Regions from separate parts of the Homo sapiens genome. Here regions 2, 3 and 4 are each linked to region 1. Evidence: fine-mapped expression QTL. A gene starts in region 1. Each other region holds a variant in brackets. All regions are shown on one strand. Distances are from middle to middle.

What was found. PIP is the estimated chance that this variant, and not a neighbour inherited with it, causes the effect.
Region 2: its variant is fine-mapped to the expression of SNPH in whole blood (TOPMed, PIP above 0.99). The same link has a PIP of 0.9 or more in aorta, lung, sigmoid colon and visceral fat.
Region 3: its variant is fine-mapped to the expression of SNPH in whole blood (INTERVAL, PIP above 0.99).
Region 4: its variant is fine-mapped to the expression of SNPH in blood mononuclear cells (TOPMed, PIP above 0.99). The same link has a PIP of 0.9 or more in T cells.

Annotation. Positions count from the first base shown.
Region 1 is chr20:1,263,873-1,268,910 of GRCh38, reverse strand. It overlaps SNPH (syntaphilin), which reads right to left and starts at 2,617. Exons shown (of 7, transcript NM_001318234.2): 1 at 2,514-2,617; 2 at 2,151-2,257. RefSeq lists silencers at 2,122-2,201, 2,302-2,381 and an enhancer at 2,782-2,931.
Region 2 is chr20:1,297,986-1,303,023 of GRCh38, reverse strand. SNPH (syntaphilin) reads right to left here. Exons shown (of 7, transcript NM_001318234.2): 6 at 2,313-2,462. Among named protein-coding and RNA genes, the nearest start is that of SDCBP2-AS1, 25 kb to the left of the region's middle. The variant C/T (reference allele first, on the strand shown) is at 2,988.
Region 3 is chr20:1,290,056-1,294,773 of GRCh38, reverse strand. The region is part of intron 2 of SNPH (syntaphilin); the gene reads right to left. Among named protein-coding and RNA genes, the nearest start is that of SNPH, 26 kb to the right of the region's middle. The variant C/T (reference allele first, on the strand shown) is at 1,707.
Region 4 is chr20:1,284,407-1,289,444 of GRCh38, reverse strand. The region is part of intron 2 of SNPH (syntaphilin); the gene reads right to left. Among named protein-coding and RNA genes, the nearest start is that of SNPH, 21 kb to the right of the region's middle. The variant A/C (reference allele first, on the strand shown) is at 2,610.

The DNA of each region.
Region 1 (5,038 bases):
GCGAAGCATCTGTTAATCACCAACAATAGCAATAATAACAGTAGCTGTAATAGCAATAATAATGACAACCAACAACCTGGACGATGTCCTACACTAAAAAGGGCTTTCACCTACATAATCAACACATTCCTACAGTTTCTCCCTAACCTAGTTGGCTTAGGGACATAATTTCCTCAAGTTTGTTTCATTCAACACTTACGGAGCACCTACTTTGGGCCTACTCATGGGCCAGAGGCTGGAGATAGAGAAAGGAAAATGATAGGGCCTCTGCCAAATAGGAATTTAGGGTGGGGGTGGGGGGACATGACAACTTCTTTTGGCCCAAATGGTGCAGCAGCAAAATTCCCCACCCAACCCTATGGAGAACCTCCTTTATCATGCTGTCAAAAGGCAGGAGGTATCTGGAATAAAGAGGAGCGAGAAAGGCTTGAGTGCTAGGCTGAAAATGACAGCAGGAAGGAAGATAAAGAATCGAAAATACAAGCACCAAAAACTTGACTGCCTGGCCTCAGGGTGACTCTAGGGAGACACTCCAGGGAGGGCAAGAGAGCCACAGTGGGATTCATGTGAGATCCGGAAGACCTGATCCCTGCCCTGCTGCCAGCACACAAGAATCTGCTGCTTCTGTTCCCTCAGAGACTCCGCCCTTGGATGCCAGGATTTTCCAAACCCAATGCTGGGCTACAGTCCTCCTTGGGACCATCATTTGCTAGAATGATGTCACAACCTTTGCAGTGGAAATGTTGCTGCCTGCCTAGGCCCTCAGCCTGGTGACCCAATACACTTCAGCATTCATTACCCCTGGCAGGGACACCATCTGCAGGGGTGTGGAAGAGACAGGCAGGGGATGGGGAGGAGAACAGGACTAAAAGCAGTCACCTCTTCCTCTCTTCCCCCAGCCTATCTCCCAAGTCCTGAGTTCCTGAGAACCTACTATGTGCCAGGCACAGGCACTATTTTAGGTGCTTCCACATACATCTCATTTAATTTTCACATCAGCCCTCTGCGGGCTGTACCCCTAGATTTACAGATGGAGAAACTGAGGCTGGGGGAAGGGAAGTCACTTGGCAGCTCAGGGATGTCAACATAGGACTGTCTGGCACCTCCAGCTCCTTGAGGCCCACAAGGTCAATGTTTCACTTAAGAAGTCAGAGTTGAAAGAGATCAACTGAGGAAACCCCAATTATTTCATGAAACTAAATTTAAATTGCCTTAGCAGAGGGGTCCCCCTGACATGTAAAAGCTGCTTGAGTGATATACTAAAATTATACACATCATTTAATCCAATTCCTGCATCTAACAGATGAGCAGACAGACACCCACGCCTAGAGAATTTTAAAATGGCTACTTGTGGCCAACTAGCAAGTTAAGGGCCTAGAACCCCAATCTCTGGCACTTTCCTTACACGACTCTGCCTGCAGAGATCACCTTTTTCTAAGAAGCTCCTCCAGCCCATCCCGACACCACCAGATGGGCAGAGAAGGCAGAGGAAACGGGCAGCATGTGACCGGCCTCTCTTTCAGTCTGCAGGGTTGGGGAAGGGAATATGGGGCTCCCCAGGCTAGTAGGTGTTGCAAACAGCCCAGATCCCGGCTGGGGAGTGGAAGGCTTCACATCCCAGGGAAGCTCCGGGGAGACGGAGGCTCAGATCGTCCACTCTAGGACTTATGGGCATTTTTTCCCCAGATCTACTGCAGGGCCCTGATGCTTCTCAGAGGGAAAGATGGGATGGAAGCAGTCATTGGCACTTGACCTTGGGGTGGGGGTGGGGTCTCATCCTTCTCCCACCCCCAGGTACCCCTGCTCCTCCTCCAAGAAGGAAAAGAGAAGCTTAAATGTTTGCCAAATGCCAGAAGGGGAAGACAAATAAAATTGGGGGGTGGGTTCCCTAAAAGCCTCCTAATCACCCACTTTGGGCATCTTCTCTGCTGCAATCAGCACCCTCTAATTCTTACATTTCAGGGAGGGGGAGGGAGGGAAGCGCTTAAAGGGATGTAGGGGAATGAAGGGAGGGTAAGAATGAGTCACGATTAACCCCTCTTAGGCTGGTGCCCTCCAAGGGATTCTACCGCAGCGAGCGGTTGCAAGCGGCCCCCACCTGCCGCGGTGCAGCGCAGGGCCAGCTCCCCGCTCCGCCGCGGCCTCCTCACCTGAGTCCACTGGCCCTCCGCAGCCCCGCCGGCTCGCACCACTCCGGCCCGGCTTGGCGCAGCGCCTCTGCAGTCGCTGCTGCAGCCGCCTGGCCCTGATCAGCGACCTGCGGGGTTAGGAAAAAGAGATAGACCGGGGCGGGTGAGCGCGGGCGGGGAACACCCAGGCAGCTGAGCCCCCGGCCGCTGACAGCTGGGCCGCTGCAGCCAGAAGGCTTGGAGGGCAGGCTGCCTGCCGGGTGCTCCGTCCCCTCCTCCTCGCGGCCCGCGGCCCCCACCCCACCCCCTGGCACTCGGCACTCTGGACTGCGGCGGGTGCAGCTGGGCGGTGGGCCCGGAGATCCCCGGGGTCCTTGTCATCACCTGCGGAGGCTTCCATGGCTTCAGCTGCCCTGCAGGGGCCGCCGAATTGCTCTCCCGAGCCCCTGCAGGAGGCGGCTAGCTGGGTGCTCGCCGGGGCTGGGGCTGCCGGGAGGGAGGGGCGGGGAGGGTGAGGTGGATGGAGGGGACCAGCCAGTCGGCGGCTCGCCGGCAGCTGCGTAAGCGGCCCGTCTTTACTTTCCTTCTTAAAGAGATAGTTAGTATCTTGCTCTAGAGGGCCTGGGAACAGAGACAACGAGCACACGGGGAGCGGCGGCCTCTCCCACCTACACACCAGCCGGTATTTTGAGCTGGGCGATCGATTGGGCGTGGTGGAAAGCGTCTTGGTCGGCTGTGTGACCCTGTGCAAGTCCCTTCACCTCTCTGGGCCTCAGCTTTTTCTTCTCTAACATGGGGTGATGATACCAGTCTCACTCCCTGGCACATAGTTGGCTCTAGTGAAATAGTAATTTTTATCTAAAAGCCTTTAGGAACATTTTTCATTGCCCAAACCAAGTCTGAGTACCAGGGGTATTTAATGTGAATGACAAGCACTTGGGCTACTAACAATGATAGCAGGAATCTTAAGTGTCTGAAAATGGAAATGTTTTCCTCTTAAGTAGTAAAAAGGTGAATCATTGGAAAGATCTCGGAGAGATAAACAATCACAACTTAAAATGTTAATTGTGGCTCTTTTCCCTCTGTCTTCCATCTGTCACAGGGAAAACAAGAAGACCAAAAAGTCCAAAAAACTGGATTTTCTGCCTAGCCCTTCCATTTCTAGCCATACAACTTTAGATAAGTTAACTCACTTTCTGGGCTTGGTTTCTTATCTGCTTCATGTGTGGGAAGTAGGTGGAGTGGGAATGGGCTCCTTCTTTCTGAACCAGGCCTGTCTGATCTGTCATTACTCTGCTCTAAACCATCCAGTGGTTTTCTGTATCGCTCTCCGCCACATGCCCTCATCTTACTCCAGCTCTCTGACTTCATCTTGCGTGGCTCTCCCCATCACTCACTTTTCTCCCATCAAGCTGTCCTTCTTGCTGAGGCCTCACTGCTGGGCCTTTGCATTTGCTGTCCCCTTTGCCTAGAACACACCAGAGAGCCACATGGTTCAATCCTTCCTTTCCTCCAGGTCTCTGCTCAAATGTTACTGTCTCAGAGAGGGCTTCCTTAACCATTCTACATAAAATACTAACTCCCTCCTCTCCACCTCCTTTGCCCCTAGTTTTGCTACACTTAATTACCAGCTGACATAGTGTATATTTACTATGTGTCATTTATCACTCCCACTAGAATGTACACTTCATGAGGGAAGGAACTTTGTTTTTTTCCCTTGCTGTATTTCCAGTGCCCAGAGCAGTGCCTAACACATAGTAGGAGCTCAATAAATATTGACTAAGTGAATGAGAAAGCAAGCACACATTGTGCCAGGCCCCAGTCTTCTATGGGAACACTAGGCCAGATGCCATCCTGGAAGTCCTTTTGTCTTAAGTCTCTTAAGGCTCTTAAGTCCTTAAGTCTGTTTACTCTCGCCGGTGCTGAACTTGGTACCCTCTACTCTCTGCCCCAAGCTGACTTTTCCAAGAGAAGAATTTGTAAAGTGACTTCACTGATTTACATCATGACTCTGCAGTACTGGCCTGGTGAGAAACAGTTAATATTGATAATGTACATGAAAAAATAATTATTTTAAGTTTACTGTTGCTTTTCACAGTCAAATCTTTTCCTGTATCTCTGAGCTGCAATAAATCCATTACTTTTTTTGCAACAAATGCTAATAAATTTTGGAGAGGACATTGATTCTATTTTCTCCTGTATTCCGTTAAACCATATCCTATCAGATAGCCATTATTATATTATGTTTTCTAGAAAAACATGGCAGAGCAATTTAGCAGGAATAGGAAACTAGTTGAAAAAGCCATGTGAAATGTTGAGGTCTTCTGTCCAAAACACCTAATGCTATATTAGCAAGTTAATTGATAAAATGTTTTATCTGCTCTAATGCTCACTGAAATTATATAAGTGACATTTTTACACTTAAAAGTGAAACCAAAGGAAGCCATGTAATTATTACATGTTTAGAAGGAGAACATTTCTGAGATTGTCATTAAAATATTTTTTTGTCTGTTCCCATGCTGTTTTGTTTATTAATAGAGATGGGGCTTTACTATGTCGCCCAGGCTGGTCTCCAACTCCTGGGCTTAAGCAATCCTCAGCCTCCCAAAGTGCTGGGATTACAGGCTTGAGCCACCATGCCTGGCTGTCCCATCCTCATGTGTGTATGTGTGTGGGGTTTTGTGTGGGGGTTTTTTTGGGTTTTTTTTTTTTTTTGCTTGGTACTTAGAAGACTACATTTCCCAGAAATCTCCACAAGGAACTTCCCCAAAGCAAGACAGTGACTTCACTCACATTACTCCCATCTGGAATGGTGTTAGCTAGTAAAGTATTCTCTTTATCATCAGGAAGCAGATGATTGAGAAGAGAACTGGTGTTTAGTTATAATGTAAATTGCAACAAATGAGGAT
Region 2 (5,038 bases), 34 kb before region 1:
GGGCATCCTGCCCAAACCACACAGGGCAGATGGTCTGCTCTAAGCCATGGGGCTGGCCCTAGAAATGAAGCTGGGAGATGGGCCATCTGCTCCCTGAGGCATTAGTGCAAAAGGCCACGCAGATCCTGGGCATCATTGGGAAGATGAGGGAAAATAAAAATAGAAATCCTCCCTCTGCCGACAATGAAGCTCGCTGAATGCTACCCGTAACCGCCTGTAGTTTAAAACCACAACAAATCCAAACCGGATTGGCTGCTTGGCAGAGCTGTGGTCAAGAACGATGTGGTCATGCATACAGCGTGATCCCATTTATATGAAATGTCCAGAATAGACAAATCCATAGAGACAGAAAAATCAGTGGTTGCCAGGGACTATGGTGGTTGGAGAGAAACTGGCGGTGATTGCTAATGGGAATGGGGTTTATTTTGAGGTGATAGAAATATTGATGAAATTAGAAATTGGCGGTGATTGCTAATGGGAATGGGGTTTATTTTGAGGTGATAGAAATATTGATGAAATTAGAAATTGGCGGTGATTGCTAATGGGAATGGGGTTTATTTTGAGGTGATAGAAATATTGATGAAATTAGAAATTGGCGGTGATTGCTAATGGGAATGGGGTTTATTTTGAGGTGATAGAAATATTGATGAAATTAGAAACTGGCGGTGATTGCTAATGGGAATGGGGTTTATTTTGAGGTGATAGAAATATTGATGAAATTAGAAATTGGCGGTGATTGCTAATGGGAATGGGGTTTATTTTGAGGTGATAGAAATATTGATGAAATTAGAAACTGGCGGTGATTGCTAATGGGAATGGGGTTTATTTTGAGGTGATAGAAATATTGATGAAATTAGAAACTGGCGGTGATTGCTAATGGGAATGGGGTTTATTTTGAGGTGATAGAAATATTGATGAAATTAGAAATTGGCGGTGATTGCTAATGGGAATGGGGTTTATTTTGAGGTGATAGAAATATTGATGAAATTAGAAATTGGCGGTGATTGCTAATGGGAATGGGGTTTATTTTGAGGTGATAGAAATATTGATGAAATTAGAAATTGGCGGTGATTGCTAATGGGAATGGGGTTTATTTTGAGGTGATAGAAATATTGATGAAATTAGAAATTGGCGGTGATTGCTAATGGGAATGGGGTTTATTTTGAGGTGATAGAAATATTGATGAAATTAGAAATTGGCGGTGATTGCTAATGGGAATGGGGTTTATTTTGAGGTGATAGAAATATTGATGAAATTAGAAATTGGCGGTGATTGCTAATGGGAATGGGGTTTATTTTGAGGTGATAGAAATATTGATGAAATTAGAAATTGGCGGTGATTGCTAATGGGAATGGGGTTTATTTTGAGGTGATAGAAATATTTATGAAATTAGATAGTGGTAATGGTTGCAAAATTCTGTGACTAAACTAACAATCATCTAATTGTACACTTTTGATAGGTGAATTATATGGTATGTAAGTTACATTGCAATAAAGCTGCTGTATTAAAAAAAAAAAAGAAAGAAAAGAAAAAAGGAGCGATCATCGTGCCTGCTCTGAGCTCCAGCCCCACACAGCACCTTGGCCAGCTCACAATAGGCTGCATGTTTGCATAGACACAGTCCCGAGAAGGATAGTTAAGACAATGGGAGATCGACGCCCTGAAGTGTAGATCACAAAGATGAAGCCACTGGGCTTGGAGGGTAGAAGCTGGGAGGGTTGGGATTAAGCACTTGAGAATGAGCTCAGACGGCCTGCGGGGGCTCCTGGGAGACACCTGGGCTGGGGAGGAGCTCAGCAAAAGGCTTCTCATCATCATCCTCCACAGCAGGAAGTAGATGGCTTCTGGGGCCTGAAGTCGAGGTTGGCCACAAGCCCTCTGGTGACTCACTCAGGAGGAAGCGAGGAAGGATAAAGAGTTGTTTCTCCCCCAAAAGAGGCAAGTAAGTCAGAAAGAAGCCCTGTGCTCCAACTCCTGGAAGATGGGAGCCAGAGGAAAAGAAGCAGCCAAAGGAGCTGCCAGGCTGAAGCTGGGAAAGGACAGCACAGGCAGGAGGCCCCACAGGACAGGCCCTCATGGGAAACTGCTCCCGCCTGGCCCCCAACAGCCTCGTGGAGCAGTCAAGGTGAGTAGCTGCTGGGGATGAGGGTCTGCAAGTGGGCTCAAATGAGGCTTTGCTGGGAAGGAGAGAGCAGACGGATGCTGGGAGACCCCCAGCCACTCCTCCCTCCAAGAGGCACCCCAGAGCCCTGGTTTCCCTGAGTGTGGAGCTGGTGGGGTACCCCCAGGGCTGCTCGTGGCCACCCGCTCACCGGTCCTGGAGCCGGTCCTGTGTGTCCTTCAGCCGGGCTTTCAGGTGCCGGATGCACACCTCCTTCTGCTGCAGGGGGGTCAGGTACTGCTCCGGGGTCGGGGGCTTGATGCCATGGTTGTCACTGCACAGCGTGTATTTCATGGAGCGCCTGCAAGGGGACGCCCATCATCAGGGAGGGAGGAAGAGGTCAGGCAAGGCACAGGTGCTTTACCTCTGGGGAGCAAGGGGACACCAGCCTCACCATCCCTGGCCACCAGATGCTCCAAGCCAGGCCTCCCACACAAGGCAGGAGAACCCCCAGCCTTCTGGAAGGTGGGTTTTAGTAGAGTTCCTCTAAGTGAAGACCATCATGTCAGGAAGCGGGCTTCAGGGCTCCTCTAGTTAGGGCTGGGTGGGGAGATATATCCCAGAGCATATGTGTAAACCTGGAACCAGGCCAAGCACTTGACCAACGCCATCAATCCTTATAGCAGCCCTGAAGTAGGGACTGTCTTCATCTTTTAGAGGGGCCGCTGGCCTCAGAGAGGTTAGCTCTTGCCCCGAGCCCCTCAGACAATCCCGGTAGTGTGCCCCAGAACCCAGGTACCTCGTCTTCCAACCTGGAGAATGAGTTTGAAGGCTGGAAACTGAGGTGTAAGTGGCAGATGCTGGGTCTGCATGGCAGACAAGGACT[C/T]ACCCCCACACAGCAGGATACATCTCCCAGGTGGAGGCAGAAGCTCTCCTCTCTAGAGCTGAGACCCCTCACAGCCTGGGGACAGGGAGGGCAGACACGCGCAGGCACAGCTGTCTCCATATACGCCCTGGCACTCTCACTCCTCACCCCCACTGCGTACACGTGGGTGAGCACTACATGCACGCACACTTCCTGGGATGTCAATTCCCAGTCCATTCACACCTGCATGCCCACATACATGGAGACACACTTGTGCCTCGCAGGTACTCACACATACTAGGGCACCAGCCCAGGCACATGTTCACACTTTCACCTCCGGGGGCACATGGGAGCACACACGTGAACACCTGCCGGCTCTGGGCAGGGACCTGTCCACTGCAGTACTCTGGGGTGGCAGCAGGCTGGAAGTGCACTGCTCCCAGCACAGGGCGGCACTGACATGGTGCCCTACCAGGGCAAAGGAGAAGGAATTTCCACCCAGAGGGCAGTCAGGTGCCAGTGGAGGAGGGAGGGCCAGGCTTTCACGGGGAAGGAGAATGCCCCAATTCCACAACAGACTATGGCCCAGCCAGCTCTATTCTCAGTGTCCTGGCTGCTGGTTGTTTTGCTCAAACAGAAACCTTGGATCTTGGCTTAAAACCTGGGCATGTATCTCGCGACTAGAGACTCAGGCCTTGTTGCCATCCAACTCTGCTCCTTGAGGGGAGAGTGACTGGCAGGTCTAGGGAGGGGCAATGTCCCTTTATGAGCCTGGAAAAGGCAGGCCCTGGTGAGGCCCATTTGCTGAAGCAGCCGAGCTGGAGGCAATTTTAAAAGTTCCATGGAAGCTGTATGGTGTTTACCGAGGAAAAAGTACTTGTAAGTCGTAAACTGTCAAAGAGAAAGTGGTGATAGAAGTGGAATGAGAAGTGGTTTTCTTCTATGTACTCACGTCATGGCCCCTAGGTCAACTCAAGCCAAGTCACGCAGGTCTCCTCTCTGCTTGGCAAGGGGCGGAGGAGTCACCCCTTGGCAAGGGGTGGTAGGAGTGGGGGACCCAAGGTTAGCTAAACTAGTAAGGATTGAGGATTAGAGAGGAAGTAACTATTTTACATTCTTTTCATTTTGCTTTCATGAATATTTTCCCCGATATAAAATTTAACACGTGTACATTTTTAGTCACTAGCTCTTTGTAAAAAAAAAAATATGTATACACACACACACACACACACACACACACACACACACACACAAATTAGAAAAAAAATACGCTGTGACGCATGTTTCTCAGCTGTTCCTGCCTTGGAAAGCCTGGCTATTTGCAGAGGGGACCTAACTGTGGCCCCACTGCTCACCCAGGGGCAGCAACCCTTGTTGTGGGGAAGAAGACCCTTTGCTGGGAGCAATTCTCAGCCCTGGGGTTGGGATCACCTCCATGGGCTGCAGTTACGAGGTGTGTTACAAAATCTGTTACTAATAGAAAAGATTAAAGTTGCCAATTATATAGTTTTCAAAATGTAAATTAATGCTTTACTCCTATGTCCCCCAGTCTCTGGGGTGGTGTTACAGCCAGGATGCTGGGGCATGAGTCCTGCACATGGGTGTTACCCATCATGTGTGTCACGATAGAAATCTAACAGCTGCTGTTTCAGTGGCTCTGGACATCGCTTCACACAAATGACATCCTCTCCACTGAGTCCTCCCAGGAGGTGCTCCAGCCATGGGAGCCACAGGCTGGGCATCTCCTGGCCTTAAGTCAGATCAAAGCTCTAACAACAGGAGGTATCAGTTATTGGCCAACTAGGATGCACAGGCGGTGTGTAGATATCAAGTCACCGAAGCTTCCGAGTTATTAGCTCCACTTTAAAGAAAGGAAATGGAGGCTCAAGACAGGAAGAGACCAAATCCAGAGCCTATGCTCGTTCCCTACACGCCCCAACCTCCCACTTGTATTTCAATGCTGGGGAAGCAGGACAAGGCCTACCATGACAGCTCTTCCTTCCTGGTCTTCAAGGACCTACAGCTCCCCTACACCTGCTTCTCCAACATGATCCTGCTTTGTGAGTCCGAGT
Region 3 (4,718 bases), 26 kb before region 1:
CCCCCTTCCCATGTCAGGGCCTCCCCGGAGCCTGGTCATCCCAGCCAGCGGCGGGGCTGCCTCCTGAGTGGACAAAGGCACTACTCAGATGGCCTGTTTCCTGGCGGGGACATAGAACACAGCCTGTTCCCCTGGAGGGTCTGGACACAGCCAGCATTGTCTGCCTGGAGGTGTCGGGTGCTGGGCTGCAGGACCTGCCGACACCACACCTGTCACCTGAGCTTCTTGCCCCAGCTTGGCAATGCTTCCCACTCATTATGCCCCAGTCACCCAGGCAGGGCCTCCTGGAACTGTAGGGCTGGCCCCTAGAGCAGGAACCATGGAGGAGGGGCGATTTGGGGGTAAGAGGACATCAGTGCTCCTCCATGCTTGTGAGGATGGCCATAAATGGCTCACTGCCTCCTGGGCACAGGAGGATCTTGACCAGGAACAGCTTAGGGTGCAGAGGGGCACATGGGCAAGGGCTCCAAGGATCACCTGCCATTGCCTGAATCCTTCAGTGGTAAGGTGGCCATGCTGAGTGCTCTCGTCTGCCTTGGCCCATTACTTGAAGCAGCAATCCTTCAAGGCCGGCTTTGTTACTGCATTTGGGCCCAAGGTCACACAGCTGCAGGTGTGACATGCTCTGGCTTCTGGCCCAGGTCGGCCTGGCTTCACCAACAACTTTCCCACCATCATCCCTGCCCTTCTGGCTTTTGGGAGGATGCAAAAAGGAGGCTGAGCCTTCAGGAGGACTTTCCAGCAGAGGCAGGACTCAGATCTGAGGATGGGCTCTTCCAAGCCAGTGTGAGTGAGTGTTCTAAGGAGCCAGGAAAGTCCAGGCAGAGTGCTAGGCCCAGTCCTGGGAGGCAGGCAAAATGCCTGGTTTGTCTTGGAGCTGCGTGTGGCCTTGCTACAATGAGGGCCTTGTCCCAGCTGTCCCTGCCACTATCTTGCTTGGCTACCCCACACCTGCCTCCTCTTGAGTTCCCTCTTCCTTCCTCCCTGGCCTGGGGGAGGGAAGGGGGTGGCACTTGTACCTGCGTATAGCTAACAGTCTCCTGGGCACCCAGAGCCAGGTATTCATTAGGGACAAAGGTGGAAGACGCATTTCCCCTGCTGGGATGGGACCTTGCAGGCAGGGTCCCTCATGGGAGGGCAGAAGCCACCCAGGCCCAAAGGGAGCCACCTCTCAGGATCCTACTCAGAAAACTCAGTGTGCATCCTGTGCTCTCTCAGGTCCTCCCTCCCTTCTAGGCCCTAGCAAGGAGGCAGGTTGCCATGGTGTTTGTCACCATGCCACCTGCTTAGCCTGGAGTCCCGCAGGCCTCTCCCCAGGTGGCCAGAGGCTGCCACTTGGAAAGGAAGGTAGAAAGAAAACCCTTAACTGTGGGAAGCTGGGCTGATAGTCTCTCATCACTTTAACCCCAGAGTAAACCCAGCCCCTGCCCTCACTGAACTTCCCTCCACTTCCCCATCTTGTCCACACCATAGCAACCCTGCTGCATCCACTCCTTTGACTGCTCCCTCAAATGCTCAACACTTCCTAACCCCCCCGACAATGGGGGTCCAGGGAGCATGAGACTAATGACTGCAGAAGTCAATATGAACTGATCTGGGCTCAAATGCCAGCTCTGGCACCCTTCAGCTGCATGCCTTGGGCAAGTCACCCACTTCTCTGAGCCTCACTGCCCATATCTGTAATAACTGGGGCTCTAATGAATGCA[C/T]CTCATATGGTTACTGTGAGAATAACATAAAATAATGTGAGTATGGGGCTTAGGTCAGTGCCTATCACACAATAAACACTAAAACATGGGGGCAGCCAGTATTTTGGAAGTAACATGAAGTGAGCTTCAAAACAGAAACACATTCAAGCCATAATAGTGTCTTCAGGAGGATCCAGGAACGCTTCTCTACACAAGAAATTTGCACTGGGTCTTGAGGGATGAATAAGAGTTCACCAGGTGGCAGCAGAAAATGGGAGGGAAGGAGAAGTCTGGACACAGGCAGTGAGTGACAGCTGGCTGCTCAGAAACTAGGGAGCCTGTTGAGGGCAGAAGTACAGTGGGAGTGAGGCTGCAGAAGGAGGGGGGCAGGCCACACAGAGCCACTTAAGCCAGGATCTTGTCCTGTGGGCAACAGGAAGCCATGCAAGTGCTTTATAGGAAAGGGGCACAATCATATTTGCATTTTAGAAAGTTCCTGATAAGGAGCCTGTGTGGAGAGGGAGGGATACCAGATACCAGTTAGGAGGTTACCAACCAGGGGAGAAATTAGGAGGGCCTGGGCCAGGGTCATGGCAGGAACAATGGAGAAAAGGGCCTGGACCCTGTTCAAAATTCCTTGGAAGTCCCAGATTAGGTAAAAATCAGAGCAAAGCTCTTGATGTGGGTGCTTAAGGCCCTCTCATCTACAACCTTTCCAACTGGCTCTCTGATACATCCAGGAGACCTCGGCTAGTCACTCCCAAATCTGCATCTCTACATGGGCTGTTTGTCCCATCTGCAGCATCTTCCCTGCCTGTCCTCAGGCATACATTGCACTCTTTCTTTAGGTCCCACCCACAGCCTTTCCACCAGTGACTTCTCCTATCACTTACTGTCTTGACCACTTAGGATGCTATGCCTTAGACTAAAACTCAGGGAACACCATCCCCTGGGAAACTTCATAAAAACAAACACAATCAACACACAACTGTTGGTAATACAATGGTTTAAACAAGCACATTGAATAGACCAAAGAGTCAGATTAGATGGTCTCTAAGGTGCTCTGGATCTAACATTCTCTAATTCTAGAGCTGTCAATGAAATTATGGGCTTCTAATTGATGCTTCTTTCTCCTTCATTACTAGGACTTTCGGGTCTCAGTTTCCACATATGTAAAATTAGGAAGCTCCATTCTTCAAAGAGACATGATAGCATTTTCCCCAATCAACAGTCATGGGGGAAAAACCAGGTGCTTGGGTTAATCTAATATTCCAGCTAAGCAAAAGTCCCTGTATGTACTATAATTTATCTTCTTTCAAAGAATTAGCCATTGATACAAGAAGAAAGCTATCCTAAAATCCGAGGGAACAGAACAATCTGTGTCTGATGACTCAAACCACTGACAGCTGTGGAAAGCAGAGCATTGCAATCAACAGAGCAGAACTTGGGAGGGATCCTCTCTTTGCCAAGGTAACACTAGAACGCAGAACATTCCACCCATCAGACAGCAGAGTGCCTGGTGCTCCTAGAATGCTAATGCAGAGAGGTGGGAATAGAAGACAGGCCTGGGAGTGTTCCAGCAGCCACACTCTAGATCTCAGAAGATTAGCACTACCAGGGCTATTCACAGCTGAGGAGTTCAGTAAACCCTGCACTGGCTATGGCCTCATCAGCCACTATGTGCCTCTGCTCCTCCTTTGTCAACAAAACCTAGGATCTTCCTTCCAGGACTTGCTGGCATTTCTCCAGCTTGCTTCCTGTTTCCCACACAAGCCACCCTCAAAGCTGGGACCACACATGAGGCGCCATCCGACTTCTTCTCACTGTTGTGGCAACCCCAACACAGCGGCAAGGCAGACCCACAACTTGGCCAAATGCTGTGAGAAGCTTCCCCAGGCAACCAGCATAGGTTGAGGGCTGAGGCAGCTGCTACACAGGATGTGTCTCCAGTGATTAGACTCAGATTCCAGAGCTGAAGGGCATCAAGCCTAGGTCTTCAAACCACCCAAGAGGACTTGCCTCTGCACCTACTGGGAGGGGTGGCTTGGGCCTCCTCCCCCATTTCACCTGAAGAGGCTCCTCTCGTATGTGTTTTACATATGGAAGGTGTGAAGTAAGACTACTTTTTAAAAAGGATTTTTCAGGTTAAAAATCTATGGAATACTTATTTTCCACAATGAGATATTGTTTCACATTCACTAGGATGGCTAGCATAAAAAAGATGGACAATAACAAGCGTTGTCAAGGATGTGGAGAAGTTGGAACTCTCATGTATTGCTGGTGGGGATGTAAAATGACGCTGCTGCTATGGAAAACAGTTTGGTGGTTCCTCGAAAAGTTAAACATAGAATTGCCATAAGAACCAGCAATTCCACTGCTAGGTATATACCCCAAAGAATGGAAAATAGATGCTCAAACAAAAACTTGTATAAGAAGTGTACTTCACAGTAGCACTATTCTTAATAGCTAAGAGGTGGAAATAACCCAAATGTCCACCAATAGAAGAATGGATAAACAAAATGTGATGCGTCTATGCAATGGAATATTTAGCTATAAAAGGAATGAAGTATTACTGATCCATGCTACAACACAGATGAACCTTGACAACATTATGCTAAATGAAAGAAGCCAGATACGAAAGGCCGCATATTGCATGATTCCATTTATATGAAATATCCAGCACAGGCAAATGCACACAGACAGAAAACACACTGGAAGGGAAGAAGGAACAGGGAATGACTGGTAATGGGAATGGAGTTTCTTTTTTGGGAAGATAAAAAACGTTTTAGAAGTAGCTAGTGGTGATGGTTATATAATTTTGTGAGTATCCTAAAATCCCTGAATTGTACATTTTAAAAACTTAATTTTTTTTTTTTTGAGACAGAGTCTCACTGTGTCGCCCAGGCTAGAGTGCAGTGGCACGATCTCAGCTCACTGCAACCTCCGCCTCCCGGGTTCAAGTGATTCTCATGACTCACCCTATCGAGTAGCTGGGATTACAGGCACGCACAACCACACCTGGCTAATTTTTGT
Region 4 (5,038 bases), 21 kb before region 1:
ATGGCTCAGCAAGTTGCAGCAGAAGGGGAGCAAGAGCCAGTGCCCCCCCTCTACCTGACTTCAGGTAGCTGGGCCCAGGATGCTTCCCTAGACTTTGGGTCAGCCTGGAGGAGACTGGTAGCTGAGGCTGCCCCTAAAGCTCTTGCATATTCACAACTTCGTTGAATCCTCACACAAATTCCCCATAGAGGGAGGCCAGGTAGAGACTAGTCCATCTGATCTATGGGAAACCTGAAGCCTCAGAGGTTACAAGAGTCACCAAGGGCTGGACCCTGGATTTCCAGGTCATGGGCACCTGCATTTCTACTGCATCATGAAGGTCTCATAATACAGTAGACCTGGGACACTTATCATTCTGCTGCATAAAAGAAAAAACCTACTTTTCCATGAGACTCTAAGATACCACAATGGAGATGAGCAGGTATATACCTGCATTTTGGGCTGGTCATACTTCCATAAAAGCAGGGCATCACAGACATAAGAGGTAAGCATACTACAGAGAGTCGTTTAAAAAGAAATTCTTGGCCAGACACGGTGGCTCACACCTGTAATCCCAGCACTTTGGGAGGCCGAGGTGGGCGGATCACCTGAGGTCAGGATTTCAAGACCAGCCTGGCCAACATGGCAAAAACCTGTCTCTATTAAAAATAGAAAAATTAGCTGGACGAGGTGGTGGGTGCCTGTAATCTCAGTTACTCGGGATGCTGAGACAGGAGAATATCTTGAGCCTGGGAGGCAGAGGTTGTAGTCAGCCGAGATCACGACATTGCACTCCAGCCTGGGCGACAGAGTGGAGACTCCATCTCAAAAAAAAAAAGAAAAAAAGAAAAAGAAATTCCTCATGTGCCTTCTCCCTAACTAGTGACTTTCCCTGTTCCTCTAAGAATCAGCCTCGCAGGCAAAGGAGAAGCCCTTTCCATGAGGAGCACTGCTCTTTCCTCTTCCAACAACTGCTGCGTCCCACCCAGCAGCCCAGCTGCTGTGCAAGCCCACCACTGAGAGACCCTCAGCTCCTCTGAGCCATATCACATCGTCCATCTTGGTGACCTTGGGTCTTTGACCTCTGTTCGTCTCAGCTGTCTCATGCATTCACTCAGGAAGGCGCCACCTTCCTGGCCCTGCTGTCTCTTTGGGATCCAACCAAGGTAATGAATGGAGGGATGGGGGTAGTTCTTGGGAAATTAGAGGACTGAACATTTCTTGCTATCACTATTACCTGTCGAAGGAGATCTCTCTTTTTCCCTTCTTCAGAAATAATTCTTGCTTTATCACCTCAGCGGACATCAGCAGGCCCAGGCATGAGTGACTCTGAAATGACTGGCAAACTCTGCTAGGCCAAGTGACCTGGGCTGGCTTTCCAGGGCAATGTCTGGCAGGCCTCCCGTCTGGGTAGGGAGTAGTAGGGGGAACACTGGTTCCCATGCTTCCACCATCCCAGCTGCTCCACGGCTGCCCCTCTGCAGACACCCATGGAGAAATGTGAGGAACGGAGGGGCAGTGGTGCCAGCCCCAGCTTGGTGGCTGCCTGGCTAGTGGCTCCTGGCAGATGGAGGCCCTTCAGCAACCTTGGCCACAGCATATGCTTCCCTGGGCTTCCTGACTGATAGAGCTGTCAAGCCTCAGTCCGGCTTCTCTCCCTTCCCCCTTCTCCCAAGCTTCCAACTCTAAAGCATCACAGGATGAGGAAAATGGTGAGACTTCCATCCCTAAAAATTCTCATTTTTTCCAGATTTCTGCCTTGATTCTTTGGATCCTGGATGTAAGATTAGGTAAATGCCTAATCCCCTGGCATTTACCCCAGGTACCAACAGGGACTAACACACTCTCAGAATCAGAATGGAAAGGATCTGGAGTAGACCTCATCACAACCTATCATTCTATAGAGAAAGAAACTGAAACCCAGAAAAAGCATGTTAGTTGCCTGAGGTTACCCAGAAAGTCAGGGACAGAGCCTGGGCTTGGGGCTAGACTCCTGAATCTATCAGTGAAGCTTCTGTACCACAACCCTTGCCCTCACCAGGGCAAAAATTAAGAAAAAAAAAAGAACAAAGGGAACCTTTTCAAGTAAAGAAATCTTGGAAGGAAGGCCTACGGGTATGACAGGAGAAGTCCTGACCATTTTAAGGCAGCTCATAAATGACATGCAATAAAATATGCATTGAAACAGAGGCCCAGGGAAGAAGGGAATATCCATGCTGACCACAAATACATGGTGGCAATAATGACATTGAGATTCAATTCCAAGCTTCCTGGCCACTGATGCCAAAAGGGAAAGTATGCTCAGTCTTATTGTTCTCATGGTTATGGGAGGGCAGGAAGAAAATTGGTTCTTTGGGAGAAATAAAGATCTCCCTAAAAGGAATGTTAAAAGGAACACTTTTGCATGGGGTTGGCTGCAGGGCAAGATGATGGTCCACTGGGAGTCGGCAAAGTGGGTCCCAAGGAAAGATGGTGCCCTCAGAGCTCCCCAAAGTTGCCCTGTGTGTGCTGTGCTTTGCTCATGTCAGACTGAAGAACACATGGAACACACAGACCAAAGGACTAAAGGGATGTGGAGATGTCATCTGCTCTGCCTGCGACGACAGCCCCTTTCCACAGACAAAGCCCCC[A/C]CCCAGCCTGAGATCAGAGAGCTTCCTCGTTCCTGGTAATACAAAACAAGAAACCACATAAAACCACTCACGCTGTCTCTTGCACTTGCATTCTCTCCCTGTCACTTGTGCACACACACTCTCTCTTGCTCTCCTGGCATTTCATGACAATCGAGTCCCAACTGCCACATTTTCTAGATAGAAAAGTGAAGACTTGCCAAAGGCCACAATGGAGCCATAGAAGCAGGGCCAGCTCATTCTAATCCCACCAACAGTTCCAGGCATGCCGCTCCTGTTGGAAGCCAAGGTTCATCTATCTTCCTGCAGCTCCCAGGGGCTCAGCAGGGAGACATGGAGCCCAGCGCACCCAACTGTGCCTGTTTTAGCCCAGGAGCCTATCTCACAGCAGCTCCTTCATCTCTCCTCCCAGCTCCCTTCTCCCTCTCCAGCTGCAGCTGCCCTGCTGTCCTCAGCAGCTGATCCCTGTCCACCTGATTCCCCGTGGTACTTCCCATGCCATGCTGAATTCTTTCACCTTCAATAAGATCCAGGGCCTCAACAATGCCCAGTGTGGCTCACACTTGCTGGAAGAGGGTGGGTGATTAATAAATGCCTCTCCTAATAAGTTTTCCTTCTCTGGAGAAGCTGCCCTACCTCTTAATTTAGCCAAAGTGAAGCATTCTAAAATGTTTTAAAAGGGAGATTCTACAAACTACTATGTCCTATTTTAAAGGCCCTTTATCTTTTTTTTTTTTTTTTTTTTTTTTAAGATGGAGTCTCGCTCTGTCGCTCAGGCTAGAGTGCAGTGGCGCAATCTCGGCTCACTGCAACCTCCGCCTCCAGGGTTCAAGCAATTCTCCTGCCTCAGCCAGTAGCTGGGACTACAGGTGCCTGCCACCACCCCTGGCTAATTTTTGTATTTTTAGTAGAGACGGGGTTTCACCATATTGGCCAGGATGGTCTCAAACTCCTGACCTTGTGATCCACCTGCCTTGGCCTCCCAAAGTGCTGGGATTACAGGCATGAGCCACTGCACCCGGCCACCCTTTATCTATCTCAGAACGAGTTTTCCCCTTTTGCTGACAGGCAGACTAACCCGACAGAAAGAAACCACGGCTTGAACATCAAATGTAACTGAATTTTAGATCCAATATGACTGGATTTGGAACTCTGAATTCCAAACTCCACCACCCACCATCTTTATGACAGTGGGAATGCCACTTTACTCCTCTAAGCCTCATTCTCCTTATCTCTCAAATGGGGCTAATTACAGTTGTGCATGAGTATAATCACAATGAGCAATAACACGTGTGAAATGCCTAGCAAGGACCTGGCATAGGGACAGCACTCCGTAAATAGCAGTAATTATTTATTCGCCTGAATATATTCTTATTCTCAATGTTATTCATGTATATTACATCTTTCTCCCTGTCCAAAATCTTAATCTGAAATACTATACTCGTTTGTATCTGAGAGGTTCCTGACTACAGATTCATTTTATGCTTTCTTAAGTCTACTTGCAAAAAAAGAAAAGGAAAGAAAAACCCTAAACCGGTCATTGTCTACCAAACAACAGGATTTCAGGACACCGCCACTTTGGTCTAACAGAGTATCTCAAAATTAACACATCCAAAATATGAATTTCTGATTTTGCCTTAAAAATCTGTTTTTCTGCAGCTTCCCTCATTTCAGTTAATGGCAATCCCATCATTCCAGTCGGGTAGGCCAACACTCTCACGTCTATCAGAAAAGCCTGTCAGCTTTTATTCCCTGCACAGTGTATGCATTTTACAGATAAGGAAACTGAGGCGACACAGTCACAGAATCTGACACCTTTCGGCATCTTCACTGCTCCATCCCTGGTCCAAGCCACCATCTCTCTCCTGGATGATGCAGGTCTCATTATCTCCTACAAACTCTGCCCAGCAGCCAAAGGGATCCTTTTAGAACACAAATTGGATCAGGTCATTCCTCTACTCAAAACCCCTCCAACGGTCCTTCCTTTCAATAGAGGCTAAAGCCTTTTCTTCGGCTGATGTAAAGTTCTGTGCATCCCTCCCCTGACCCCCGCTTATCTCTTTGACCTCATCACCTCTCCCCCTCATTCACTCTGCTCTAGCCACCCTGCCTTCTTGCACATCCCCTCATCAGGGCCTCTGCACATGCTGTTCCTTCTGCCTGGAATGCTCTTCTCCCAGATCTCTGCCCCGTGTATTCTCTCTCCTGCTTCAGGTCTTTGCTCCAAGGTCACCCTCTCAGTGAATCTTCTCTGACCACTGTGTTTAAAATACAACCCCTCCTCCTACAGCACTCCTCTTTCTTCCCATGCTTCGTTTTTCTCCACCGTCCTTAGCAACAGCTAACATATTTATGTATGTATTTATTTTATGTCTTTAGAATATAAGCTCCAGAGAGGTAAGGATGGATGCCCATTTTATGCTTTATTTAGT